6 linked regions of the Homo sapiens genome follow. The protein of the gene in region 1 interacts with the protein of each later gene in a pairwise test. Each region holds a gene or a part of one and is shown in the gene's direction. Other genes may lie near its edges.

Region 1 (4,899 bases):
CACCTAGCCTCCACCCCCAAATCCCCACCCCTTCTGACTTGACAATTCCCCTGTCTACCCCTCTTGTGCAGGAGCCCACAGGGTTCAGCCTTAACAACCCCATGTATGTCCGGAGCCCCTGTGATCCTGACAGGGATCAGCGATACCTGACCACCTACAACCAAGGGTGAGGTCCGCTTCCTGGTCCAAAGCTGAAACCCATTTGAGAAACAGACTGAGACTGGGATAAGTAATGAGCTCACAGCCTCGTGGAGAAGATCAATGCTGAGTGAATATGGGTTCCCCAGAAGCATACCCTAAGCCAAGGATTGGAGTGCAAGCATGTTATCAGGCAGTTATTAGGCGTGTGGGAGTGGAGAAGAGGGATGAGGGAGGGAAGGCAGCAATAATGAGCATGTTACTAGGCCAGCTATCCCACTGGGAAAACTCTAGAAAACAGTGTAAAGCACACAACTCAGAACTACCCCAGTCAAAGGTGAGAGAGCTGGGGTATTTATACCCCCACATCCATCGGTCATTGGTTAAAGGCTATCCCCAGGGCAACATTAAAGCCCAGGTGCCTCCTTGCTCAGGCAAAGCAGCTTCTAGCATCCCAAGGGTAGCTTTCCCACAGAGATGCAGGGCATTGGTGGCCAGGCTGGTGGGCATGGAAAGAACAGGGCAGTGCGAGGGAGTCTGGAGCAGCAGCATCTGCTAAGACATTCCATCCAGCCAATGGTTGGTGGGCTCGATGCTCCCTCAGAAGGTAAATTCTGTGCTGTGCATTCCCTGGGTTAGGAGTGACTGTCCTGGGCATCAGGGAGGGCTTCCAGGAAGGAGGTGGCCCCAGAGCCATGGGGAAGCCTCCTGGGGCCAGGACTGGGTGGGGAAAGCATTATAGGAGTGGTATAAAGGAAGTGTAATTCTTCTTCTTCTTTTTTTTTTTTTTTTGAGATGGAGTTTCACTCTGTCGCCCAGGCTGGAGTGCAATGGCGTGATCTCAGCTCACCGCAACCTTCGCCTCATGGGTTCAAGTGATCCTCCTGTCTCACCCTCCTAAATAGCTGGGATTACAGGCATGTGCCACCATGCCCAGCTAATTTTTGTATTTTTAGTAGAGATGGGGTTTCGCCATGTTGGCCCGGCTGGTCTTGAACTCCTGACCTCAAGTGATCTGCCTGCTTTGGCCTCCCAAAGTGCTGGGATAACAGGCATGAGCCACCGTGTCCTGCCAAGAAGTACAATTCCTTTTTTTTTTTTTTTTTTTTTAAGATGGAGTCTCTCTCTGTCGTCCAGGCTGGAGTGCAGTGGTGCGATCTCGGCTCACTGCAAACCCCGCCTCCCGGGTTCACGCCATTCTCCTGCCTCAGCCTCCCGAGTAGCTGGGACTACAGGCGCCTGCCACCACGCCCGGCTACATTTTTGTATTTTTAGTAGAGACAGGGTTTCACTGTGTTAGCCAGGATGGTCTTGATCTCCTGACCTCGTGATCTGCCCGCCTCCAGGAAGTATAATTCTTAGGACAAACTCCGAGCCAGGAAGCGCAAGCTTTCCTCACAACATCAGTCACCTGTGTCCACCCTGCTTCCTCTCCAACTCCTGGTCCTTCAAGGTGTCCCTGCCACCTCTCTGTCTCCTCCCCCTGCCCCACCCCCTGCTCCGGGATACCTCCCAGAATCCATTCATGGAATAGACTTTAACTGAGCCCTGACTGGGTGCCAAGCCCTGCTCCAGGCCCTGGGAATGTGTGTGCAGCTCCTGCCCTACGGAGCTCAGACCTCTGCATGGGAGGAGACATGCATGTGGCTGCAGCCAGTTAGCGAGAGCTGTTAGGTAATGCGCAAAGAGAAAGGGATCGCGAGGGCTGCAGTGCGCACGGGTCGGATTTGAAATCGGTGGCCTTGAGCAGGTGACGTTTGAACTGAGACTGAAAAGAGGGGAGGGCGGTGTCCTGGAGGAGCAACAGAGAGTCTGAGCTGGAAGGGCCGTTTGTTGTCCTCTGGCCTAAACCCTGAGGCTCAGAGGGGAGGAGCAGAGCTTCCGCCCGCACAGCAGACTCAGCACAGTGGCCGCTCCAGTTCCCACGGAGGTGGGGGAGGGGCAACGATGTTCTGACCCCTTCTTAGGCAAACACCTCCTCCTGTGGCTCTGGCAGAGACCAGCTCCAGTCCTGTCTGCTGGGTCCTTCCAGCCTGTCGTGTCCTGTTGTGTCCTGAGCTCCTGCTGGCTGTCAGGCACGCTTGCTGGTGCTTCCTGGTGCGCGCAGAGCCCCGGGATTGTCATCACTGATTCCTGCATTGATCTGTCTGCACCCCCTCTTCATAAGTTCAAGGGTGGGACCCCCTTCTTACTTGTCTTTGCACCCTCTGGACCTGGCTGTGCTCAGTGAAATGGAAGGAAATGGAAATGAAATGGAAGGAAAGTTAAGTGCCTAGAGAAGTGGATGAGACGGGGTCCCCACCCCAAGGTACTGGCAGGCCAGGGACAGGGGCATCACTGAAACTGTCCTTTAACACTCCAAAGAGTGTTTCAGCGTCAGGTGGAGGGGAGGGCAGGCTTTTTGAGTAAGAGTTCCCCCAGTGGACGTGGGCTTAGGGAGAGCTAGACGAGGACAGCATGAGCAAAGGTGGGGAGGCTGGGCGATCTGAGGGTCGATGGAGAAGGGCAGCAGGGGTTGCAGAGGTGGGCAGAGTCCAGCTTCCAGCCAAGGACCCCTCCTCTCCTCCAGGTACTTTGAGAACATCCCCAAGGGTCTAGACCAGGAAGGCTGGACTCGAGGTGGCATCCAGCCCCAGATGCCAGGAGGCTACGCCCTCAGCCAGCCGGTCAGCTGCATGGAGGCCACCCCCAACCCCATGGAGAGCCTGCGGCACCTGCATCCCCACGTGGGAAGGTGGCACCACCCCCAGCTCTGTTCTTTCTCCCTACCCCTCATCCAGGCCGTGTGCCAGGCCTTTCCCTTCCTCTCCTCTCTTGCTGTCAGTCCGGTTCATTCCTATGAGAGGCCCATCTCCTCTGGCTGGCTCTGGTGTCCCTTCTCCTGCTAGCACAGGCTCCTCCCCTCCTCTCCTTCCAGTGACCCCTCCCTCAGATGGCTCCTCCTCCCTCTCCTGCCCCTGTTCCCCAGGCCCGGTGGACTGGATGGGGAGGATCTGAGCAAGGGGCTCTGGGGTGGTTCAGATCCAGAGGGGGATGCGGGGACGGATCCAGAGATGAATGGACTGTGGTTCGGCCTCACTCAGCTCCTTTCTGCTCAATTCAATTCCTCAGAAATTACATTTATATCAACAATGGCCCAGAGTTGGCAGGCAAAGAATGTTTGTGGCTTGGCTGCCCTGGCTGAACCCTGGCTATGCTCTCTCAGGGAGGGTCAGGCAGAAGACAAGAAGACAAGGTCCATGCCCTGCCTGCCAACACCCCCAACACTCTCCTCTTGCCTCCCTGCAGAACCCTGACCTCAGCTGACCCCTTCTACCAGAACACACCTCACAGCAGCCGCTGCGTGGCACACAGCTGAGCCCTGAGCCCTTGGTAAGGGGCTGGGGATCCCCACACTCAGCTGCTCTGGTTGTGTGGGCAACCGTTATGGGCCAGCCCTGCCTCTCAAGCCCTGGGTTAAGCAAGTCCTGCCTGGGGACCCCCCTTCCAAGTGGGGGGTGACAGATCAGGGGGCCTCTCAGAACCCCTTCTCTGCCAGGCAAGCACACAGAACCACCCCAGAGCCCCTTGCTCAGGCCTCGCCTCTGCTTCTCCTCTACAGGTTTGTCAATCCTAGGGGACAGGAGCCAGGCTACTGTCTGTACCCCCACTCCATCCCCCAGGGGAACACCCCTGCCCAGCTACTTTCCTAATGAAATAAAGAGCATTGAAGCAGAGAAGTGTGACATCACTATCAGGGTGGCTGGAAAAAGGAGGGGTGAGCTGGGGCGGTGGGTGCAGGGGTGGAGGAGCTAGGGCCAGATTTGGAGTCGGAAGGGCTCGGCTGGAACCTCTGAGGAACCATGACACGATGGATAGGCACTTCATTCTCCACGCTCAGTTTCTTGTCCTGTAAAGGGGTCCTCTATGGCCTGTGCTGCTTGGGAAAGTGCTTGGTCAAGTGTGGGTGGAAGAACCCCAGGGGAGGGGCAGGTGGTCCAGAGAAGGGGAGGGAAGCAGACGCAGGGCAAGGGGACAGAGGAGAGTCTTGGATGCATGGCCACCTGGACACCAACACGGGGGTGGGGGGCGCTTGATCACAAAGGCTGGTGCCAGTCTCCGTCCCAGCCAAGGTGACCAGAGCAGGTCACCTGTTTGTGAGAAAGAGAACAAGCTGCCCCTTAGGCGGATGTCCCAGGTGGGCGCAGGCCCTGATGAGCCAACATCCTGTGTGGGAAGAGAAGGGCGTCTCTTCCTCCAGATGTTGCAGCCTGACACAGGCCCCCAGCCTGCAAGACAGCATCTGGGCCAGCTCTCAGCACCTTTTGTCACCTCAGCCAGGTGCATTTGTGCAGTGCACAACACTACAACTGTATGCTGTGGCCCTGCTAGCACCAACTCCTTATAAATGAGAAGTGTGAACCCAGGAGGGTGCGTGAGCTGCTCGGGGTCACACAGGGCAGAAAGGCAGGAGCAGCGCTGGGTTGGGGATATCCCCCGTGCCTTGCCGCCCTGTCTGGGCATGCAGAGGGGGTGTCCTCCGAACCCTTGCCTCCACTTGTGTTCCTTAGTGGGGGTCTGTGGAGCAGCACTGCTGGCCCCAGAGCCTGGCTGTACCCAGCACAGCCTTGAGCAGCAGGCCTGGGGGCTGTCCACAGCCCGGCTGGGGCTCCATGTGGGCTGTGGGTGGCTCCAGCTGGTCCCAGCATGAGAGGAGGGAAGCAGAAGACACAGAGTCTCAGAGCCAGACTCAGGACCCAGTGACAGCCCAGACCGTGGGTG
Region 2 (4,899 bases), on another chromosome or scaffold:
GGAGTTAACATGTTATTCTCTAGGAAGCTAGGAATAAAAAGTAGTTGACCAATAATATGTCTTTCTATAGAAATACTAAGTAAAGATTTGTATTAACCTCTTTTGCTATGATTAAGGTTCTTACAGATGTACTCATTCCTGCAACAATGCAAGAAATGCCTGAAAGGTATGTTCAGTTAATAAAACATGAGCATTCCTAGTATAGGATTTAACTTTATACATTATATTAGAAGAAAACATTAGGTAGTAATTTATTCATTTATCAAGAAGACTATTTTCTACTTTTGTCCCTTTGTATTTGCTGGAAGAGATGTGTCTTATAGCTGGGCCTCAATAAACAAAATGGGTGAAACAATCCTTCAATCCCTTTAATTTGAGAGCGGCTAAAGTGAAAAATAGATTTAAGCACTGTTGATCTTCGAGAAATTTTTCAATGGAAACTAGCTGGAGTATGATAAAAAAGATAATTAATGGAAAATAACCACAAGAATAAAAACTATAGGAGAAATTATTGTATTTTATTATTAACTTTTGTCTTAATTACAAAATCAGAAAGTGGCATGATGAAATTACTGCCTTCTTTTAACAAAGGAATAAAATCTCAAATAGTTTATTGAAACAATACCAGAAGATTTTTCAAAAAAAAAAAACCTTTTCAATATAAGAACAATAGAATTCTGAAAAAAAAAAGCCAACTTTTTCTCTGAAAACAAAATCTAATGAAATGATAAAATTTATTTTAGTATTTTGGGGGTACAAATTCATATAGGACTGGACATAGTTGGTGCTCCAAAAATAGATGTTGCTTGGTAAAACAAATTTTACTTTTTATTTACCTTTTCCTCCAGATTATTTCATCTATATGATAGTTGGTATTAGCCTGATCAATAATGTCTTTTAATTATCAATTGTAGTCTTTAAATATCTATTCTGTACTCTGAATTGGGTACTTGAAGTGGAGTTTGAAGAGCTTGAGTGTTTTGACCAAGATGATAACAAAACATCTCATGTACCCCATAAATATATACACCTCCTATGCACCCACAAACATTTTAAAAATATAGCATAAGAAAAGATGATAAATGGCAGATCTAGGCTGTCTGACTTCAAAAGTACTGCTTATGAAACCATAGAATAATAGTATACCTCAATTAAAATATGATTGTTTAATGCATTTTTTAACAATGAAGCATTTAACACATAGCCTTCTTTGTAGCTTATTAGCAGACATAAGAAATTTTGCTAAAAATTGGGAACAGTGGGTTGTTTCATCCTTGGAAAACTTGCCAGAAGCTCTAACTGACAAGAAAATACCTATTGTGCGAAGATTTGTATCTTCTCTGAAACGACAAACATCTTTCTTACATCTTGCCCAGGTATGTTGGTTGCTAAGTCGAGAGCATTTGAGTCACCATATAAAAAATGAATCTTCTGAGAAGGACAGATTGAGGAACTTTCATAGATTGAAGGGAGCTAAGTAGACAACAACTAAATGCAACGTGAGACCCAGAAGTGAATGCTATGATAGAAAAAGCACATTAGTGGGAAAGCTGGTGAAATTTGAATTATGTCTGTAGTTAATAGTATTGTACCAATGTTAATTTCATAATTTGGGTAATATACAATAGTTACAGAAGATGATAAGAAGCTGGATGGAGAGTATATGGAAATATTCTGCACTATCTTTGCAACTTCTCTGTGATTGGAAATTTAAAAAACTTGAATGCAATTAAACATTTATTTGCCATGTGAATCTAATTGGTACAAATTAAGGTTGTGAGAAGTAAGCCTGTGTGATACTTAATATTGTGAAACCACAAACTCAACACATTTTAAACTGCCGACTAATCATGGCTCTTTTAAATAGAGCAAAAGTAATTCATAAGTTAAGAATGATGCATTTGTATATTGTTAAAATATATTTCTCTTTCCCCAAAATGATTATCTGCTTTATGAAGGTTTCTTGCCTTCTAAATTTTAAAAGACAAGCTTGAGATGATTTCAGATAGGAAATGTAACATTTAAAAATTCTTATTTTGTGATCATGGACAAAGAGAATCCATTTATATTTTCTTTTTCTATTTTTTATTATACTTTAAGTTTTAGGGTACATGTGCACATCGTGCAGGTTTGTTACATATGTATACATGTGCCCTGTTGGTGTGTTGCACCCATTAACTCATCATTTACATTAGGTGTATCTCCTATAATTTTCAGACTTTTAACAGAGATGATCATGAGTCTCAGCTACTGCTTTTGTCTTTAAAATAAGAAAAAAGTTATTTATGATACTTTTATCTCAAGGAACTATTTTTCTGATAGCTAAAAATTTCTTCTAGATACATTAGAAATGATATAGTGTAGTGTCTTCTTTACTTTCTCTATGCAGATTGCCAGACCAGCTCTCTTTGACCAGCATGTCGTTAATTCTATGGTGTCTGATATTGAAAGGGTTGATTTGAACAGCATTGGCTCTCAAGCCCTTCTTACCATTTCAGGCAGCACAGACACTGAATCTGGTATCTACACTGAACGTAAGTCCATTCTCTTTGTTTAGAACAAGGTTTTCTAAGCTCAGAAAATTGACATCTTGAGCTGGGTAACTCTGTTGGAGGAGCCTGTCCAGTGTGCTGTAGGATGTTTAGCAGCATCCTTGACCTTTACCCATTAGATGACAGTAGCAGCCTCCCCCAAGCTGAGACAACCAAAAATGTTTCCCCACATTGTCAAAGGTGTTCTGGGCTGAAAAATCACATCTGATTGAAAAAAAACCTGGTTTATAAAAATATTTTTAATTAAAAAAATTTATCTTCTAATAAAAAATAGTTATAATTACTCACCATGGAAAAGATAGAAAATATTGAGGAAAATAAAAGTCATCTGTAATTTCATTACCTAGAAATAAATGAAATGGAAATAATCTGAAAATAATCAAATTGTTTTGAGTTTTGTAAGTTTTCTTTCAGTTTTACATTACATGTATAGAAATTTACATGTGTTTTATAGTCTTGTCATCCTGTGGTGTGTGATAAATATCAAAATGGTATCTCAGCACAATACTGCTTTTCAAAGCAGACTCTCTACTCAGGTTTGGACCATCTGAGAGAGCTTACCAAGCCAATATGCATGGCTAGACAACTAGGCTTGAATTTCAAGGGATAACAGCCACTATTTTTTCCTCCCTCTGTCTTTGAAAAGACAAAACCTGCAGCCTCCTATACACTGGAGCACAAACTATGGACTGCTCTCTGGGGCCCAATCTCAACTCCACTTTTTATTTCCTAACATAAAATAGGATTACCTTTTGAGATTCAGTAAACCTTAAAACCTTTAATAAAAGGATAGTCTTAAACTGCCCTTTTAAATATTACATGATAAAACGTTATTCAGGTAAATGGCTCAATTCTGCTGAGAAGAAATTAACTTTTACTAAAGATAAAAGATATTTTGGAAAGCAGGAAATCACCAAGCTTAGGTTCATTCATTCACTTTTAACTAATCTGTTCCGTTTAATGAAAACACTAGACTCAAAATGAATATTTAACTACATAAACAACTTAATCTTCCCTAGTATGTGAATACACATATAAGATTTAAACCTATATTTCAATATATACCAAGATATATACACTTATTAAAATTTCGGGCACACTTCAAGAGGCTGAGGTGGGAAGATTGCTTGATCCCAGGAGTTCAAGGCCAGCCTGGGCAACACAGCAAGACCTTGCTCTATAATTTTTTTTTTTTTTTAATTTAGGCAGGCTTGTTGGTGCGTGCCTGGAGTCCCAACTGCTTGGGAGGCTGAGGCAGGAGGGTCACTTGAGCCCAGGAGTTTGAGGCTGCAGTAAGCCATGATCACGTCATTGCACTCCAGCCTGGGCAACAAAGCAAGATCCTGTCTCTCTCTCTCTCACACACACACCATTGAAGAGTACAGTACTAAGGATTTTTTTGTTACTGTTTTCAAGATATGATATTAATTCTTTTCACACATTTATCTGTCTTTCCCTTTCATGCTATCAAAGTATTGATGATTCCAAGTTTTAGGTTTTCTCTTGGATTCCAAGTAGAGTACAATATTCTGTTTTCTTTTCTTTCTTTTTTTTTTTTTTCCTGGGTAGATGACTCTATCACTGTGTTCCAAGAACTGAAGGATCTCCTTAAGAAGAATGCCACTGTGGAGGCTTTTATTGAATGGTTGGATACTGTGGTAGAACAGAGAGTTATTAAGGTACTTTTTAATGACAGATTCAGAAAATAAGTTCCTTGTAAAGAGTAAATGCTAAACTGGCTATAATTTTTTGTCTGGGGGGAGAGGGGTGGAAGGCTGTGTGTGTAAAGGCTTTGAAAAGCTTTTGATGCTCTACGAATAAGGCAGGCCAAATACTGAAATTAGGAATATGTCAAGATTTGAGAGCATTGGGCATGGATTCCATTATATTTCTCCTTTCTTGCCGAAAGACTACAAGATGCTCTGCCTTCCCTATCAGTCAATAACATTACAGCTGAGTAACATCAGTAGAGAAAGATAAACTTAGAAACTGGAATGATCTGGCCCGTTTCTAAAAAGCAAGATTTCATAAATGCTGATGGAAAACATGGTTCTAAGCATTTGCATTTCTGAATTCCAAAAGCTCAATATTTTGTGTTTTCTCTGTGGTTTCTTCACCTTCTTTGGTTAACCTAGTCACCCATTGTGAAACAAGCAATAAGAACAAATATATCCATCACTAGTTGGTGTTGGCCATTCCATATCAAGGAGACTAGTTATAGTTTGGAGACTTTTTTCCTTCTGTAAGGAAAATAGATTATCATTCAGTACCAAAGAAGTCAGAGTTAATCATTCACAAAAATATATAGCCCTTCCTTCACACCTCACCTTCTGTTCTTTTTAAAGCT
Region 3 (4,899 bases), on another chromosome or scaffold:
GGTTTTCTAGGTATCTAATCATATTATTGGTAAACAGTGACAGTTTGACATCCTCTTTTCCAATTTGGATGCCCTTTATTTCTTTCTCTTCTATAAGTACTCTGGCTAGGACTTCCTGTGTTATGTTGACTAGAAATGGTGAAAGTGGACATTGTTGTGAAGGACGTTTTGTTCCATTTCTCAGGGGGAATGCTTTCAACTTTTCCTCGTTCAATATGATGTTGACTATGGGTTTGTCATATATCGCTTTTATTACTTTGAAGTAAGTCCCTTGTATGCCTGTTTTGTTGAGGGTTTTTATCATAAAGGGATGCTGGATTTTATCAAATGCTTTTTTGTATCTGTTGAGATGATCATATAGTTTTGGTTTTTAATTCTGTTTATGTGATGTACCACATTTACTGATTGGCCTATGTTAAACCATTTCTATATCCCTGGGATGAAACCTGCTTGATCATGATGTGTTATCTTTTTGATAGCACATGTATCAGTATTTCTGTGTATAGATTTTGCCTTGTATAATTAAACACATTTTTTAAGGAAAAAAAATTTAAGGAAAAACTATTTTTAAGGAAATATTTTCAAGAGATGATAAATAAAACCATAGATACTTTTTTGGGTCTTTTTCCCCCTTATATTTATTTCAAAAAAGTATTTATATATTTCATGATTAAGTAAATTCAACTGTTTTAGAAAACAGGGTATGTCCATGTTTAACCATGTTGCCAGTACTAGGCATCAAAGGCTTGGGTAGTTAGTATGTAAGCAGAATTCTGTGCATAAGTTTCTATTAAATTTGATTGTTTTCCTTGGAGAAAGGGATTAAAAAATTTAAAAACTTCTGCCTACCAGTTTGTTACTTTTAATGTGAAATGATACACAAAGTTGGATCAGTATATTGATGAAATTTTTAAGGGTTCTTATCCAGAGAGTTCCCAGTGCCCTTCATTTTATAGGTTTTGCTACTATTATAAATGTAATAATGCCCAGCAACTCAGATAGATAAATGACATAATGAATATTATTTAAGGAATATATCTGTAATAAACTGTTTGTACCTACAGATACCACCTTGTCTTCTTTTCTGTAATTACAACTATTAAAGTATCTCCTCATTTTATTTTCTTGGAACCACCACCAAAGCAAGCATCAAGAAATCCTAATGTCTAGCAAGCAAACGGGGAAGACTTTCTCTTGTGAGAACTCAGACATCATCACATTTGTAAAGGAAAGGAGGCTGTGCTTAGAACTGGCTTCTGCATATAGCCAGGCACTCCAAAATGTGGCTGATGGACAGACCAGGAGATCTTTGTCAAGGATTAGAATTTTCCATTTCTCAGTGCTGTCTGGAACCTATATTCTGTTTTTCTCCTCCTGTGTATATTGTACTCTCAGGCATAATGGACTCTTCTGAAAATAACACACATTTCCTAAGTCGGATAGTGGTAGAAGGTTGCTCACATGAATATCATTTTCTCTTCTAGTTCCATCACCGGGACAGCTTCAACACAGGGTCCACAGCGTGGGGCATTTCCCAGTGTCTATCCGACAGCCTCTTAAAGCCACAGCCTATGTGAGTCCAACCGTTCAAGGCAGCAGTAACATGCCTTTATCAAACGGCTTACAGCTGTATTCCAACACAGGAATCCCCACACCGAACAAAGCTGCAGCTTCTGGGATAATGGGTCGCAGTGCACTCCCAAGACCTTCGTTGGCAATAAATGGGAGTAACCTGCCTCGAAGCAAAATTGCACAACCTGTTAGAAGGTAAGAATGTGTATTTGCGTAACTTCATTTGCAGTTTGGAACTAGAAACTGCTCCAGACACACGCTGACTTTTCCTTTGGCTCACTTTAACCTTAGTAAGACACTACCCTTTATGGCCTGACTTGTGCTCTCCTCCCTTTGAAAAGTGATGGATATCCCTGTGTGGGTCAGGTCCCCTTCTCTCTGATGTCATTTTCTTCCCTTACTCCCTCATCACTATCACTCCTAAGACGCTCTTTGCTTTTGCTTTTACCAGATAAGCTCTGTCTCCAGAGCTTTTGTAGCTTTCTGCTCCCAAGTTATTTGCATGGCTTGCTCTGTGCCTCCCTCAGGTCTTTGCTCAGATGGCAGCTCTATCCAAAAATTGTAGGGCGGGGGGAGGTTGACTTTTTGGTTCATTGCTGTGTATCCCCGATGCCAAGAACTATGCCCAATACAGGTAGGATCTCAAATATTTGTTGAATCAGTCATTTTTAATCAAAATATGGAAAAATGTGTCAGGCGTATGTGCACACGCACACCCTCCTCCCACACATTTATGGTTTGAAAAGCATCTTAATGACATTCACCTGGGGCTTTATCAGCTTATGTTGGTAAGTTCAGTATGGTCCAGGTAGTAATTTTTTTTTTTTCCCTTCAAAGTTTCAGAGTACTTCAAAGGACATTTAGTCTAGCTCTTGGTCATGATGTTCCCTTCTTGAACTGGATATCATGGAGTATCTTATATTAAAAATCCATAAAAGTGGTTTGAGGAGAGATTGGTAGATGAGGAAATAAAGACAATAAATACAGACAGCTCTTTCAAGAAATTAGGATATGAAGGAGAAGGAGAAAACCATAGTAAAAAGTTTGAAAGAGGTGGAACAAGCAATTTTTTTCTGTCTTTATGCATTTATGGATATATAAATAGTTTTATTTTGTTTTGTTTGTTTAGAAGTAATAGATGCTCAGATCAACAACAAATTTCGAAAAACAGAAACTATTGAAAAATAGAAAAGTAAAGACTGACCCATAATCCTACTGCCAGATAGAAATAATTTTGGTACATGTTTATTTATTCAGTAAGTTTTGGCTTATTCTGCTTTGTAAATGCAGAGCTGTGTCATCATGCTGATGGCTGACTAGAATCACATTATTTGATGTATATGGTTATTGTAGACCATACATTTATCCTTGACTATGTGTCTCCAAACTAAACTCTTGGAAAGGTCACTGCTAGACAATGTGAGATGGTCTATTTCCCCAAACTTAAGCAAATGCTAGGTATTATTCTTTTTAATTGTTTTAAATTTAAATTTTTTATTTTATCTATTCTTTTTAGAGACAGGGTCTTGCTCTTTTGCCCAGGCTGGAGTGCAGTGTTATGGTTGTAGCTTGTTGTAACCTCAAACTCCTGGGCTCAAGTGATCCTCCTGCCTTGCTAGGACTACAGTGCATATCACCACTCCCAGATAATTTGAAAAAAAAATTGTAGAGACAAGGTCTTGCTATGTTGCCCAAGCTGGTCTTGAATTCCTGGCCTCAAGTTTTCCTCCTGCCTCGGCCTCCCAAAGTGTTGGGATTATAGATGTGAGCCACTGCACTCAGCCAAAGATTCTTTTTAAATGTTTTGCGAATATGATAGGCAAATCTTCAATTACTAATAAGGTTTTGAAAATGTCTTCATATTCATTTGCTGTTTGTATTCAACAGAGTAACCATTTATGTTTTTAGGTCATTTTTCTAGCCAGGATCCTATATTTTTCTTATTTTAAAATATGTTTTATACATTAAGGGTATTGGCCCCTTTATTTATGTTGCAAATTTTCTTGTGCAAATACAACATGCATGACACTTTGCCATGAACTGGGGCTCTGGGAGATAAGCATGCAGTGAAGACCCGTAAGTGTGAACCACAAGGTACACTTGAGATGGTGCCAGTGGCTTCTCATTACTGCAGTGGAAGAACATAGATGGGAGAGTAGGTCAAAGTGAGTGATGTGACTCATAGGATTATTAACAATCTCTCTCTCTGTTTTTCTTGTCTCTTTTTAGTTTTCTTCAGCCTCCAAAGCCTCTGTCTTCACTCAGCACTCTGAGGGATGGAAATTGGAGAGATGGTTGCTACTAATGCAGTTTTATGTACCCTTGAAAAATGGGAAAGAAGTAAAAATGAGGGTTGTGTTACCTAGCTGGCTGGGTAGCAGTGGATGTTGGGATATTCTTTCCCTTTTGTGTTTTAATATATTTACTGCATTGTTTCTCAATGGACCAGTCACCAGAGACTAATTATTGCACTTAAATATTTGCCTGAGATACTGCAACATTCTCAAACCCATGGTTGCAGTATTGTGACACTTAGATCTAGGAAGTTTTTGTAGAACTGCTCTGTACCTGAATACTTTTTGAGAGAATTAAGATGTATCAATAATGCTTTGCCATATGAGTTTTTTAAAGTAACTTGTTCAATTTACTCACGTGTTCTAAACATCTTTCCATTACATGTTCTGTATTTTAATACATTGCATATTGACAACTAGGTTCTATAATGTATGCTTTGAAATTTACTTTTTTATAGTTTACAGGAATTTTATTTTTTGTGCCTATTTCTTTTTACACCTATGTGAACCACTATGGAACAACTTAAATTTTGTGCCATAAAAATATTTTTGTGGTAAGGTACTATTTTTTTAGCTCTAGGGATATATCAGCAAAAACACATCATGCAATTTGAGACACATAATTTTGTGTTGAATGAGCACAACATAATTTGAAGCATTGCAAGGAGATAACCAGACAGCAGAATTAAATGGTCCTGTCTTTTTCATTTTTAATTTATTGTCATACATGGGTTTCATATTTATAACGGCATCATGAGCTCATTGCACTTAATACCTGCAATGTTTGCTACTGTACCACAATTGATTTTCAATACTTTATTACGAAGGATGAAACTGTAATGTTTTATTAACAATGCTTCTGGAAATGAATGCATTTTAAAGCAAATAAATCTTTTTGATAGACCTTTTACAAAATCCATTTGCACTAATGAATGCTTTCTTATGGCATATAACTTAATATTTGTTACTGTGTACACTGCTGTTTTGGAATGTTCAGAAATAAAGACTCTATTTCAGCAATATCAGGTCATGC
Region 4 (5,364 bases), on another chromosome or scaffold:
AATAAAATAAAGGGCCATGCGCGGTGGCTCACGCCTGTAATCCCAGCACTTTGTGAGGCCGAGGCGGGCAGATCAACAGGGTCAGGAGATCAAGACCATCCTGGTTAACATGGTGAAACCCCATCTCTACTGAAAATACAAAAAAAATTAGCCAGGCGTGGTGGCGGGCACCTGTAGTCCCAGCTACTTGAGAGGCTGAGGCAGGAGAATGGCGTGAACTCAGGAGGCGGAGCTTGCAGTGAGCAGAGATTGCGCCACTGCATTCCAGCCTGGGCGACAGAGCGAGACTCCATCTCAAAAAAAAAAAAAAAAAAAAAGAACATCTGGAGCCATAATTCCCGATGTTCTTGTTACTTGACACTGCCTAAAGGCATGTTCTGTGGGTTCCGGGGAAACTGATTTGAAAAACTTGAGTGTTGTAAAGGAGGGCCATAAGCTGAGTGAACACAGCAGTTGTGAGAGGTCCCAGGTGCTTCCTGGGGACAGGGAGACACGACAGACCAAGAAGCAAAGGGGCCTCTGATGTGACTTCAATATCAAGGTCTTGTCGGGCACAGTGGCTCATGCCTGTAATCGCAGCACTTTAAGAGGCCGAGGCGGGTGGATCACTTGAGGTCAGAAGTTCAAGACCATCCTGGCCAACATACTGAAACCCTGTCTCTACTAAAAAGTACAAAAAATTAGCTGGGCATGGTGGCTCAAGCCTGTAATCCCAGCTACTTGGGAGGCTGAGGCAGGAGAATCTCTTGAACGTGGAAGGTAGAGGTTGCAATGAGCCAAGATTGCGCCACTGCACTCCAGCCTGGCGACAGAGTGAGGCCCCATCTCAAAAAACAAAATCAATGTCTCGATGCAGACTGCCAGGTATCAGGTGTCCATCCATGTCTCCAAAAAGCCACTTGGCACCAGGAGCAGACAGGAAGGGCAAAGAGGAGCCAGACTGAAGCAGGGCTTCTTAGCTCCCAAGCCACACAGGTGGCCACCAGTCAGAGAGGCAGTGTGTGTGTGTGTGTGTGTGTGTGTGTGTGTGTGTGTGTGTGTGTGTATTTCTTCAGTTCAGTGTGTGTATGTATGTTTCTTCTGCAGCTCAGTGTATGTGTGTATTCCTTCAGCTCAGTATGTGTGTGTGTGTATGTTTCTTCTGCAGCTGTGTGTGTGTGTGTGTGTGTGTTTCTTCTGCAGCTCAGGATGCCTCCAACATTTCTGCTGAAGCCTCACCCTCACTCCTGGCCCATCCTGAGGCCTCTACCTAAGATGCCAATGAGTAGCCCAGACACTGGGGCTCCAGTGTTTGTCACCAGGTGGTACCTGGATGTGGGAGGTAGACAGGCCAGATGGCCAGTTTGGGCAGTGCCCCCATGCCTATCTGGCCCTGGGTCCCTATGCCACCTTGCTGGGGAGGGTCTTTTCGCTTACACCTCCTCTGAGCCGACTCTGCGCAGTAACACAAATGTGTATCAGGCACATCCTTTCCTCAAAAGGTGGATGACCAGTTGGGTGATCAGGGCTGTTAGGGGGCTGAAGGGTCCTGGGGAGTCCAGGTCTAGCCAAGTTGAGGCCTATCCTGCTGCATTTTCCAGCCACCTGACCCAAATACACCACCTGAACCCACGACCAGGTATGCCCACACCCCATGGGTGGCCTTAACACACACACCCTGCCCCTTTCTCCAAGTACAGGAGCAGCAGCCCAGACTTCCCTCGGGGCACCGCGGCCTGCTTGGGACTGCACAGTGCCTGGGAGGGTGCCTGGGGAGGGTCACAAGGGACTTGGTGCTAGAAGCAGGAAAAGTGTAGGGACCGGAAAAGCCCCCGTGCATCCTGGAAGGGACATGGGCCAGTTTGAGCAGGGGTGTGGGAGTCCAGCCCTGGCCTTGCCAGGTGGAGAGGCGCCTGGGCCAGACATCCGCGGCAGGAGGCGGGGGAACATGCCAAGAGGCGGAAGGGGCACGCGGAGACCCCCAGGGGGCGCCGGAAGGGGCGCGCCGGGCGGTCGGCGGCGGCCGTTGGCGAGCTGAGGCCTGCCAGGCGAAGTCTGGAGACCAGCCGGGCCGCGGCCGCAATGGCCAAGGACTCGCCCAGCCCCTTGGGCGCGTCGCCCAAGAAGCCGGGCTGCTCCAGCCCGGCGGCGGCAGTGCTGGAGAACCAGAGGCGGGAGCTGGAGAAGCTACGGGCGGAGCTGGAGGCGGAGCGGGCAGGCTGGCGGGCGGAACGGCGGCGCTTCGCTGCCCGGGAGCGCCAGCTGCGTGAGGAGGCCGAGCGGGAGCGGCGGCAGCTGGCTGACCGTCTGCGCTCCAAGTGGGAGGCACAGCGCAGCCGGGAGTTGCGGCAGCTGCAAGAGGAGATGCAGCGGGAACGCGAGGCCGAGATCCGGCAGCTGCTGCGCTGGAAGGAGGCCGAGCAGCGGCAGCTGCAGCAGCTGCTGCACCGGGAGCGCGATGGCGTGGTGCGCCAAGCCCGGGAGCTGCAGCGCCAGCTGGCCGAGGAGCTGGTGAACCGCGGCCACTGTAGCCGCCCGGGGGCGTCCGAGGTTTCCGCGGCGCAGTGCCGCTGTCGCCTGCAGGAAGTGTTGGCGCAGCTTCGCTGGCAGACTGACGGCGAGCAGGCGGCGCGCATCCGCTATCTGCAGGCGGCGCTGGAGGTGGAGCGCCAGCTCTTCCTCAAGTACATCCTGGCGCACTTCCGCGGGCACCCGGCTTTGTCGGGATCACCGGACCCCCAAGCTGTGCATTCCTTGGAAGAACCGCTGCCCCAGACCTCCAGCGGCTCTTGCCACGCCCCCAAACCCGCCTGCCAACTCGGATCTCTAGACAGCCTGAGTGCTGAAGTCGGTGTGCGCTCCCGCTCGCTAGGCCTGGTGTCCTCTGCGTGCTCCAGCTCCCCAGACGGCCTGCTCTCCACGCACGCCAGCTCCCTTGATTGCTTCGCACCTGCGTGTTCCCGCTCGCTTGACAGCACCCGGAGCCTCCCCAAGGCCTCCAAATCCGAGGAGCGGCCCTCCTCACCAGACACCTCCACCCCTGGCTCCCGGAGGCTCTCGCCGCCACCATCGCCACTCCCGCCGCCACCACCACCGTCAGCCCACAGGAAACTCAGCAACCCGCGGGGAGGAGAAGGCTCTGAGAGCCAGCCCTGCGAAGTCCTGACTCCCTCACCCCCGGGCCTGGGCCACCACGAGCTGATAAAGCTGAACTGGCTGCTGGCCAAGGCGTTGTGGGTGCTGGCGCGCCGCTGTTATACCCTGCAAGAGGAGAACAAGCAGCTGCGGCGTGCAGGCTGCCCCTACCAGGCAGACGAGAAGGTGAAGCGGCTCAAGGTAAAGCGCGCGGAGCTGACCGGGCTCGCGCGGCGCCTAGCTGACCGCGCCCGCGAGCTGCAGGAGACCAACCTCCGGGCCGTGAGCGCGCCTATACCCGGCGAGAGTTGCGCCGGCCTGGAGCTGTGCCAAGTCTTTGCCCGCCAGCGCGCTCGGGACCTGTCGGAGCAGGCGAGCGCGCCGCTGGCCAAGGACAAGCAGATCGAAGAGCTGCGGCAGGAGTGCCACCTCCTGCAGGCGCGTGTCGCCTCGGGTCCCTGCAGCGACCTGCATACTGGAAGGGGCGGCCCCTGCACCCAGTGGCTCAACGTCAGAGACTTAGACCGCCTGCAGCGCGAGTCCCAGCGGGAAGTGCTGCGCCTGCAGAGGCAGTTGATGCTTCAGCAGGGCAACGGTGGCGCTTGGCCCGAGGCGGGCGGCCAGAGCGCAACCTGCGAGGAGGTGCGACGGCAGATGCTGGCGCTGGAGCGCGAGCTGGACCAGCGGCGGCGCGAGTGCCAGGAGCTGGGCACGCAGGCGGCCCCGGCGCGGCGACGTGGCGAGGAGGCCGAGACACAGCTGCAGGCGGCGCTGCTCAAAAACGCCTGGCTGGCGGAGGAGAATGGGCGGCTGCAGGCCAAGACCGACTGGGTGCGGAAGGTGGAGGCTGAGAATAGCGAAGTGCGCGGCCACCTGGGCCGCGCGTGTCAAGAGCGCGATGCCTCCGGCTTGATCGCCGAACAGCTGCTGCAGCAGGCGGCGCGCGGGCAGGACAGGCAGCAGCAGCTGCAACGCGACCCGCAGAAGGCCCTGTGTGACCTCCATCCTTCCTGGAAGGAGATACAGGCGCTCCAGTGTCGGCCTGGTCACCCTCCTGAACAGCCCTGGGAGACCAGTCAAATGCCGGAGTCCCAAGTTAAAGGTAGCAGAAGGCCCAAGTTCCACGCACGGCCTGAAGACTACGCAGTGTCACAGCCCAACAGAGACATACAGGAGAAAAGGGAAGCCTCCCTCGAGGAGAGCCCAGTTGCCCTTGGGGAGTCAGCCAGTGTCCCCCAAGTTTCAGAGACAGTCCCTGCCAGCCAACCTCTGTCCAAGAAAACCAGCTCCCAGTCAAACTCCTCCTCTGAGGGGTCGATGTGGGCCACCGTGCCGTCCTCCCCTACTCTGGACAGGGACACAGCCAGTGAGGTGGATGACCTGGAGCCTGACAGCGTGTCCCTGGCCCTGGAAATGGGGGGCTCGGCGGCTCCTGCTGCCCCCAAGCTCAAGATCTTCATGGCTCAGTATAACTACAACCCATTTGAGGGGCCCAATGATCACCCTGAGGGTGAGCTGCCCCTCACAGCTGGGGACTACATATATATCTTCGGGGACATGGATGAGGATGGCTTCTATGAGGGGGAGCTTGACGATGGCCGGCGGGGGCTGGTGCCCTCCAACTTCGTGGAGCAGATTCCGGACAGCTACATCCCAGGCTGCCTGCCTGCCAAATCCCCTGATCTTGGCCCCAGTCAACTCCCAGCGGGGCAGGATGAAGCTCTGGAGGAAGACAGCTTATTATCTGGGAAAGCCCAGGGAATGGTGGACAGAGGGCTGTGCCAGATGGTCAGGGTGGGCTCCAAGACAGAAGTAGCAACAGAGATCCTGGATACCAAGACGGAAGCCTGCCAGCTGGGCTTGCTGCAGAGCATGGGGAAGCAGGGCCTCTCCAGACCCCTTCTGGGGACCAAAGGGGTGCTCCGTATGGCTCCCATGCAGCTACACCTGCAGAATGTCACAGCCACATCAGCCAACATCACCTGGGTCTACAGCAGCCACCGCCACCCCCATGTGGTATATCTTGATGACCGAGAGCATGCCCTGACCCCAGCGGGCGTGAGCTGCTACACCTTCCAGGGCCTGTGCCCCGGCACGCACTACCGGGTGCGGGTGGAGGTGCGGCTGCCATGGGACTTGCTGCAGGTGTATTGGGGAACTATGTCCTCCACCGTCACCTTCGACACACTCTTGGCAGGACCTCCCTACCCACCGCTGGATGTGCTGGTGGAGCGCCATGCCTCGCCAGGT
Region 5 (3,797 bases), on another chromosome or scaffold:
CATTAAGCTTATATTTCCTGCCTCTTGAAACATTTCTTTTTTCTTTTTCAATATCCTCCTCTACCTCCATAAATGCAGTCCTTAAACCACAGAGTGGCCAGGAATGGTTAGGGAAGGTTGGCTATGCAGTGAGGAAGCCGATGAAAATGTCTTTATTTACTTGCAAATATGCCTGTATGTTTTGACTAATTTATTTCTTAATCAATGGGACTAAAAATTTTCTTCCAAGTTCATATGTAGCTTATGTTCTTGGAGTAGTAAAGTTTTTTCTCTTCCATCATCCTCACTTTGGTTATATTATTAGTTGTGGTGTTCTCTTTGCATCTGAGAAAGCAATTAGAAACAATTACCCACCGTATCTCAAAATTCATGTTTTCCTCTCCTGACACATAATATTCACATATTTTACCTTCTTTTTATATTTAATGAATTTGCTTATTTTAAAATATATTAATTCCAAATTTCCAAAAGTATTGTAAAAATACTTTTCATCTTCTAGCAGAATTCCTGTTACTATTTTTTAAAGTGGTGACTTGGATAGAATAACATCAGCAAACCACATTTCTGGCCCAAATGCATTCTGGTGATAGCCTTAATTATGAGAGCTGACTTTCTATGAAGCTCCCTGTGATAATTTGTCACGTTTATTCCATCCACTTATTAAATATTATTAATGAATTATTAGTCATTTATTATGATAAAGCAATTAGAATAAAATATAAACAAATAATAGTACATATTAATTCATTTGCTACTCTTAAATGTAGCAGAACTACCAATGATCAACCTAGGGATCATACTTTGTAGATCAATGTGAGACTGGCAAAGTATCATATCAATAAGAGGCAAGTAGAACATTTAGTCAGAATTTCGGAACTGCACACAGTAGTTCATAAACTTTAGTGGATATATACCACCACCTTAACAATCGGAAAAGGCATGGATTCTCAAACCAGAAAAAAATCACCATGATAAATTCCTCCACTGGTTTGCATATGATCCAAAAGGATCCCAGAGTACATGAATTTATCCCCAGTTACCCCAAGCATAGAACAAAGATTGTGATTATTCTACACAGAATTTGAGTATAGAAAGTTGCATCATGTCATTCATTTGGTTATTTTTTCACTAATTCATCAAATCTTTATTAAGAATCTGCTGTATCAGGCACCGTTATAAGAAATGCAGATTGAGCAGATGAACAAAATAGACAAAGTCTCTACTTTCTGCAGGTTACAATGAGACAGAAGGGATAGAGAGACTGATTTTAAAAATGAATGAAATAGATTCTAACAGTGAAGAATCCTGTGAGAATAATAAAACTCAGTGAGTTACATTAAGTTCAGTTACTGGAGGTAGACTAATTAATATAAGGTGGCCATTAAAAGTCTCTCTGGGAAGTGAACATTTCAATTGAAATAGAAAATGAGTCAAATATTCCTGGTATTATTTTAAGAAAGAGAAATCAGTAAGTGCAGAGGCCAGGGCCTTATTGTGAGAAGAAACCTGCTGCATTTTAAAAGACAAAAAGCCAGCAGAGTTTGAGCATTATAGATAAATGGAGGAGAGTAGCAGGATATGAAATCAGAGAGATACGTAAGGGCCAGAACTTCTCAGCACAATGAAAGGCCTTTAGAGATATTTTTGCAGGGGCACGCTATGTTCTGATTCACTGAGGCATATAAAAGGCCCTCTGCGGAGAAGTGTCCATACTGAAGTCACCTACACTCCTTCCTACCCAAGGATGACCTCAACAACCAACACCATGTGTGGCAGCTACTACAGAAACTACAATGGTGGCCATGGCTATGGGTGCTGTGGCTACGGAGGCCTGGGCTGTGGTTATGGCGGCTGTGGCTATGGGTGCTGTGGCTACGGAGGCCTGGGCTTTGGCTATGGAGGCCTGGACTGTGGCTATGGAGGCCTGGGCTGTGGCTATGGCTCCTTCTGTGGCTGTGGCTACAGAGGCCTGGACTGTGGCTATGGCTGTGGCTATGGCTATGTCTCCCACTCCTTCTGTGGCTGTGGCTATAGGTGCGGCTCTGGCTATGGCTCCAGCTTTGGCTACTACTATTGAGGACACCATGGGAGACTCTCACCCTCTATCCTGTGACATTGCAATTCACCAATTCTGAAGCCCACATGCTCTGAGCCTTTCCCTTGATTGATGATATCCTGCAGTGGAAGTCTAATATGATCTGTTGTTGATCTACCATCTAACCCAAAAATACCCTGAGTTTCCATCATGAAGTGGGATAAGGTGAAGTTCACCTGTCACTTCTCCTTTTATCAGGATGATGGTGTCACAGTGACTCCTTTGATGACTTTCATGCTGTAGTTTGTTTCTCTGCTGACCTAATAAACACATTTAATCCACAAGAGAAATCTTGGTGTTTGTATCTTATTTATTGTCCAAAATTTTTTTCTTTGATTTTTTGCTTTTATCGTTATTTTTTTCAACTCTTATTTTAGGTTCAAGGGTTATATGTGTATATTTGTTACATGGGTGAATTGCATGCCACTGAGGTAATATGTGAAAGGTAGTTTTTCAACCCTTACCACCCCCCACCATCCCCACTCCAAGAGTCCCAGTGTCTATTGCTTTCATGTTTATATACATGTGCACTCAATTTTTAGCTCCTACTTATAAGTGAAAACCTGTGGTATTTGATTTTCTGTTCCTGCATTAATGTGCTTAGGATAATCACCTCCAGCTGCATCCATGGTGCTGCAAAGAATATGATTTCCACTCTTTGTTGTGGCTACATAGTATTCCATGGTGCACATGAAACACATTATCTTTTGTCAACTATTGTTAGACATCTGGGTTGATTCCATGTCTTTGCTCTTGTGAATAGCACAGCGATGAACAGACAAGTGCATGTTTCTTTTTGGTAGAACAATTTTTTTTTCTTTGGGTATATACCCAGTAATGGGATTGCTGGGTCAAATGGTAGTTCTGCTTTAAGTTCTTTGAGAAATCTCCAGATGCTTTCCAGAGTGACTGGAATAATTTAATATTCTCATCACCAGTGTATAAGCATTCTCTTTTCTCCACAACCTCACCAACACGTTTTAGTTTTTGACTTTTTTAATAGTAACTATTTTGACTGGTCACTAATGTTATGCATTAACATATATATTTGTTATATATAACAAATATATGACAAATATATATGTAACACATATATAATTTATATATGTATTTGTTGTATATAACAAATATATAAAAATATATTTGTTGGCTGATTTTATAGTCTTTTGAGAAGTGCCTGCTCATGCCTTTTGCCCATGTTTAAAGGGGTTATTTGGTTTTTGCTTGTTGATTTGCTTAGGATCCCTATGGATTCTGGATATTAGACTTTTGTTGGATGCAGAGTTTGTAAATAATTCCTCCCATTCTGTAGCTATATGTTTACTCTGTAGACAGTTTCTTTTGCTGTGCAGAAGCACTTTAGTTTAATTAGGTCCACTTCTGTTTTTGTTGCAATTGCTTTTGAGAACTTAGCCAAAAATTATTTGCCAAAGCCTATGTCCAGAATCATATTTCCTAGGTTTTCTTCTAGGATTTTTATAGTTTTAGGTCTCACATTTAGATCTTTAACCCATCTTGAGTTAATTTTTGTATATGGAGGAATGTAGGTCACCAATTTAAATTTTCTGCATGTGGTTAGTCAGTTATCCCATCACCATTTATTGAATAGGAAGTCCTTTCCCCATTGCTTGGTCATTATCAACTTTGTCGAAGTTTAGATGGTTGTAGGTGTGTGGCTTTATTTCTGTGTTGTCTATCCTAT
Region 6 (4,899 bases), on another chromosome or scaffold:
CCAGGGCTGAGCAGCCAGGTGAGGGCTGCTCCTGGGGGAGCAGCTGAGACTGGGCAGTGGGGACGAGGGACAGGAAGCCTGAGGAGGAGAGGCTATCTCTAGGGTCAGAGAGCTCCTTGCCAGGGTATGGTGTCGGCTGGGGTCATGGTGCTGGCCCCCCGGAGAGTGTAGGGATGTTGGTGTTCAAGTCTTCCTAGCAGCGAGTTATTTACTGCAGTATCTTTTCAACGTGCACTGATCTGGTTCCTAGTCTGCATCTCCTATCCTAGCCTCACCCTTTCTTCTACCTTCCCAACCAGGCTTGGATATCCTCACCTCTTAGCTTAGACCCCAGCTGACTGCCAGCTGAGAGTGAAAAGGTCACCCCCAAAGCGCCTTTCCATTCCAGCAGTTTCGGGAGATACGGGTGAGAGTTAGGTGGGCCTGGCTGCACCCCTATTCCCTTGGCTGGGCTTTCCTTGTCTGCCTGAGCTGACCTGGAGCCCCCTGTGTCCTGGGGGCCTGGGTCTGCCTCAGGGGCCCACAGAGGGAGAAGAAGCTGCAGCACAGAAGCTGCAGCTGGGTGTCTGGTGGCTTCCCCTTCCTGCCTCTCTCTCTGCAGCCTCACCCTCTCGAAGCAGCAGTAGCAGGAAAGGTGGGGCAGGAATGCCTGGCCTGGGCCTTTGGCCAGAGCTCTGAGGGACCCGCCCCACTCCATTCCAGAGCCAATTCCCTGGGAGTTGTAGGCTCTGCCAGGGGCCTGGGATGCCCGCATGGCACTCTCGGGGCAGGGTGGAGAGGGGAGGGCTGAGACCCCTTCCCACTCACCCTTTTGGGTCTGCCTGTGTCACCTGCCCATCGTTGGCTGCCCTGATTTTGTCCCCTGCCCCACACAGGTTGGCTAACTCCAAAGCCTCAGCGTGTCAGAGACAAGGAGAGAGACAGTCTGCGGGTCTTGGGCTAAAAGACCCTCTAACTCTCCGCCCCAGATACCTGATCAGGTCATTTGGGCAGATGAACATTGCCAAGTGAGGGTACCAGGGTCTGGTAGGGGAGGGCTTTGTTGGAGTAGAGCCTGTAGCCTGGCTGTGGGGGTAGGTTTGAGCCCAGGCCTCTCTTCACCCCTCCCTTTAGGCAGGACACTGCATTCCCAGGTGATTCCTGCCTGATTGGAAGGTCCCTCACTCCAGGGCAGGAAATCTCAAGGCTCAAGCCCACCTGCCCACCCCAAGGGCCCCCACCCATCCAGCAGGCACCCCTTCAGGGTGGATGGTTGTGATCAGTGATCCCTCTGTCTGGTTAGGGGACCATGGAGGGTCCAGGCTCCCATCCACATTGAACTCTCTCTCACTGCCTGGCACTATCTCCTCTACAACTGTCATACATTTATTTCCCCAAATGTGACTTTGGATCCCATCATTACCTTGCTCTAAAGTCCTCCATGGCTGTCCACGGCCGACTGAGGCACAGTGAAGCTGTGGTCCTTTGGGGTGCTGCTTGGTGGGCTGCCCTCAGAGGCTGGGCCCTCACACCCATGAGCCTTTACTCTCAGGGTTCCTCCACTTGCCTGCTGGGTCCTGTCTTCCTTTTCATTTCTTGCCCATCATTCGTGGCTCTAGCAGGAGGCCTCCGGACTCCCCCATACCTCCAAAACTCTCCTTGCTTACACAGCCTGGTTGGGTGACAGGGAGTCCCGAACCATGGGCTAGAGGACAGGGCTGGGATCCTCTGACAGTATGACCCTGTTTATAGAGACTGCAGAATCCCTGAAGGGAGACTTGATGGAAAGGAGGCTAAGACCAGGGCACTACTAATACTATCCTGGGCACTTGGGATCCATGGTGGATATTTGAGCAGAGGAATGAGCAGGCCAAACTGGGCTTAAAGAACATCTACCCTTTGGGGAAGAAAGGGTTGCTTCCCTTGGCAGCTCTGAGCTCTCTCTCTCCTTCAGGGACCCCTCAGCTGGGCCTAGGCAGGGAGCAGGGCAGAGGTCAGTGGCCAGTCCAGGAACTCCCCTTTGAGGCGATCTGGGCTCACTGCTCAGTTCTGATGTGGGTGGTCATGGACCTTGCTTCTGGGCACCCTGCCTGAGAGGATGGGCACTGGCCTTGCTCCTGTCTGTGCTATCTAGCTGTAACCTGTGCCCTACCTAGGAGGCCCTGAGTCCGGCACCTGGCCATGTGCAACCCTGAGGAGGCAGCTCTGCTGCGGCTGGAGGAGGTCTTCTCAGCCACCCTCGCCCATGTCAACAGCCTTGTCCTCCAGCCCCTGCTCCCAGCCGGTGAGTCTAGGCTTTCTAGTGGGGAGGGAAGGGCACCGAGGAATGATCCCAGGGACAGGAGACCTACCTTGTTGGACTTGCTGAGCCACAGCTTTCTCAACCTCAAATAGGAGTGGTGACACCTGGTATCAGCATCTTCTGATGCAGGTGGTGCGATCTTGGCTCACTGCAACCTCTGCCTCCCAGGTTCAAGCGATTCTTGTGCCTCAGCCTTCTGAGTAGCTGGGATTACAGGTGCCTGCCACCACGCCTGGCTAATTTTCATATTTTTAGTGGAGACGGGTTTTACCATGTTGGCCAGGCTGGTCTCAAAGTCTTGACCTCAAATGATCTGCCCGCCTCAGCCTCTCAAATTGCTGGGATTATAGGCATGAGCCACTGCGCCAAGTCTGACTGCTCCTTTTTTAAAGGAACGCTGAGGGGCCAGGCCATGAACCTACCTGTAGCCCAGACCAGGCTGTACAAAGAGATGGAATTCCTCCTTTCCCAGGGTAAAAAACTGGAAACTGCCCTTTGCTTGAATTTTCATCTTGCTCCCACCTAGGGCACCTGATGGTGCCGGGAGGGGAACAAGACTGACTGGAACAGGATGCCTAGGTTTTACTTCCAGTTTAATTCTCACCTGTGAGGCCTTGGACAGGTGCCTCTGTGCATCTGTGAAATGGCAGAGGACTGTGTGACCCTGTGGACTTCACATTCTGGATCTGAGTAGTCCAGGATGAGGAGGCCCAGAGCCAGGGGGGAATTCGTGTATGTACTTAGTTCCCTGAGGCTGTCAGGGTTGTCCCTGTTTAGTGAGGAGTGGGTGTGTCTCCTGTTTCCTCCTCGAGGATACTGCCCACTGCTCCAGCCTGCCCTTCCCCTGCTCAGCTCTAGGGTTCACCAATTCTGTCCTGCGGATCCCAGGGATGCAGACCCTGCTGCAGCTCCAGGGCTGGCCGGTGCTGGTGGCTCTCATGTGAACACCTGGGGCCTGTGCATGTTCCCTGGGAGATGGAGCCCACGTCCTCTACTCACAGTGTGACTGTACTCCTTCCCCAGCCCCAGATCCCTCGGATCCCTGGGGCAGAGAGTGCCTGCGGCTCTTGCAACAGCTGCACAAGAGCTCCCAGCAACTCTGGGAGGTGACGGAGGAAAGCCTGCACTCACTGCAGGAGAGGCTGCGTTACCCGGACTCCACCGGTCTGGAGTCCCTGCTGCTGCTGCGAGGTGCTGACCGTGTACTGCAGGCCCACATAGAGTAAGACCACTGGAGGTGGGGCTGGGGCTCATCCCTGGTGTCAGAGTGACACCTGGCATTAAGGTTCACCTGGGGTTGGGGCTCACATGGGTCAGGGTTCAAGCAAAGGTTTGGGCTCAGTCCATGGTTGGTGCTCACCTGGGTTCAGCCTCACCTGGGCTTGGGTATTCGCCTGACAGCAGGCTCAGACACTCCAGACCTGAGGCTTGGGGCCTCTCAGGGAAGACAGACTGTATGTTAGAATTGTCTTGTTGGCCCAGGAGTTGAGGTCTCCAGTGCCCAGAGCCAGGCCACTGTGTGGGCCCTCAGGGCTGCAGCTGACTAGTGGGTGGGATCTGGGGATCCCAGGGACCAGGGGCTTAGGTCTGGGGCTGAGGACTGGGTTTGCAGGGTGTCCCCTGTGCTGCCTGCAGGTACATTGAGTCCTACACAAGCTGCATGGTGGTGCAGGCCTTCCAGAAGGCAGCAAAGAGGAGAAGGTGAGCACAGGGCTGGTGCACTGGCCCCTGACAGGGTGGGAGTGCCTGAGTGAGGGTGGGGTCGGGGAAGCCCCCTCCCCAGAGCAGCAGGTGTCACAGCCCACAACTCATCCTGGAGGACTCCTGGCTCTACAAATCTGCACTGATCCACACTGGAAGAGAAACAGGGAAGGCCCAGTGAGGCCAGGAACAGAATCCAGACCCGCTCTAGCTGGGCTGGCCTTGGGGCGGGGAAGGAGGGGAATCCCTTCAGGGTGGATGGTTGTGATCAGCAATCCCTTCATACTCTGAGATATTGCTCTTAAACCTGTGAGGGCAACTCAGGTACTGTGTTGATCTGATAGGGTAGAGGTTTTGGGCCTGGGGCTGGCCCTGGGATCTGAGGGGATTAGCTGGGGCAGGGAGGTGGCGGTGTGGGTGCAGGAATGGAGGAAGGGGTGAAGGTGGTGCGTGGCCCTCTCTACACGCAGCGAGTACTGGCGGGGCCAGCGGAAGGCGCTGCGGCAGCTGCTTTCAGGTGTGAGCTCAGAGGGCTCGGTGGGCGCATCGCTGGGCCAGGCCCTCCACCAGCCACTCGCCCATCACGTGCAACAGTACGTGCTCCTCCTGCTGAGCCTCGGGGACACCATTGGGGAGGTGGGTACCAGGGGCAGCAGCATGTGGGGAAGCCGAGGGAAGGGAGGGATAGGGCCCAGACTCAGGGGGCTCAGCCTATACTCAGGAACCCTAGTACAAGAAGGACTCAGCCATGCCGGCAGGTGGGAGAGGGTTGAGGAAGTCACAGGCCTGTCCTGTGGTTTTCAGGGGACATGGGGGACGTGGCCCAGCCCTGAGGAGGGGGTCCGAAGACATGGTTCTGTCCTAGGGAATCTTAGTGGGTGAAAGCACTGCCCTTCCCTGCGGTGTCTGAGGCACGT

What was found.
Region 2: the proteins of SAXO4 (region 1) and RFX6 interact in binary tests that used the Homo sapiens proteins (3 or more experiments, as listed by UniProt).
Region 3: the proteins of SAXO4 (region 1) and SLAIN1 interact in binary tests that used the Homo sapiens proteins (3 or more experiments, as listed by UniProt).
Region 4: the proteins of SAXO4 (region 1) and RIMBP3C interact in a two-hybrid assay, tested with the Homo sapiens proteins (one large-scale study listed by BioGRID).
Region 5: the proteins of SAXO4 (region 1) and KRTAP6-3 interact in a two-hybrid assay, tested with the Homo sapiens proteins (one large-scale study listed by BioGRID).
Region 6: the proteins of SAXO4 (region 1) and ALS2CL interact in binary tests that used the Homo sapiens proteins (3 or more experiments, as listed by UniProt).

The regions. Positions count from the first base shown.
Region 1 is NC_000011.10:61,487,075-61,491,973, forward strand, and holds the end of SAXO4 (stabilizer of axonemal microtubules 4), read left to right. Parts: intron 1-71; coding exon 72-166; intron 167-2,707; coding exon 2,708-2,872; intron 2,873-3,426; coding exon 3,427-3,496; 3' UTR 3,497-3,510; intron 3,511-3,739; 3' UTR 3,740-3,854; downstream 3,855-4,899.
Region 2 is NC_000006.12:116,917,921-116,922,819, forward strand, and holds part of RFX6 (DNA-binding protein RFX6), read left to right. Parts: intron 1-116; coding exon 117-166; intron 167-1,216; coding exon 1,217-1,376; intron 1,377-2,389; coding exon 2,390-2,534; intron 2,535-4,121; coding exon 4,122-4,231; intron 4,232-4,899. UniProt on the Homo sapiens protein: Transcription factor required to direct islet cell differentiation during endocrine pancreas development. Specifically required for the differentiation of 4 of the 5 islet cell types and for the production of insulin.
Region 3 is NC_000013.11:77,759,344-77,764,242, forward strand, and holds the end of SLAIN1 (SLAIN motif-containing protein 1), read left to right. Parts: intron 1-1,484; coding exon 1,485-1,767; intron 1,768-3,801; coding exon 3,802-3,877; 3' UTR 3,878-4,886; downstream 4,887-4,899. UniProt on the Homo sapiens protein: Microtubule plus-end tracking protein that might be involved in the regulation of cytoplasmic microtubule dynamics, microtubule organization and microtubule elongation.
Region 4 is NC_000022.11:21,547,674-21,553,037, reverse strand, and holds the start of RIMBP3C (RIMS-binding protein 3C), read left to right. Parts: upstream 1-1,576; 5' UTR 1,577-2,061; coding exon 2,062-5,364. Other genes in the region: UBE2L3 (ubiquitin-conjugating enzyme E2 L3), read right to left, coding at 3,388-3,588.
Region 5 is NC_000021.9:30,590,702-30,594,498, forward strand, and holds KRTAP6-3 (keratin-associated protein 6-3), read left to right. Parts: upstream 1-1,738; 5' UTR 1,739-1,765; coding exon 1,766-2,077; 3' UTR 2,078-2,354; downstream 2,355-3,797.
Region 6 is NC_000003.12:46,686,702-46,691,600, reverse strand, and holds part of ALS2CL (ALS2 C-terminal-like protein), read left to right. Parts: intron 1-2,135; 5' UTR 2,136-2,160; coding exon 2,161-2,263; intron 2,264-3,304; coding exon 3,305-3,503; intron 3,504-3,916; coding exon 3,917-3,982; intron 3,983-4,452; coding exon 4,453-4,618; intron 4,619-4,899. UniProt on the Homo sapiens protein: Acts as a guanine nucleotide exchange factor (GEF) for Rab5 GTPase. Regulates the ALS2-mediated endosome dynamics.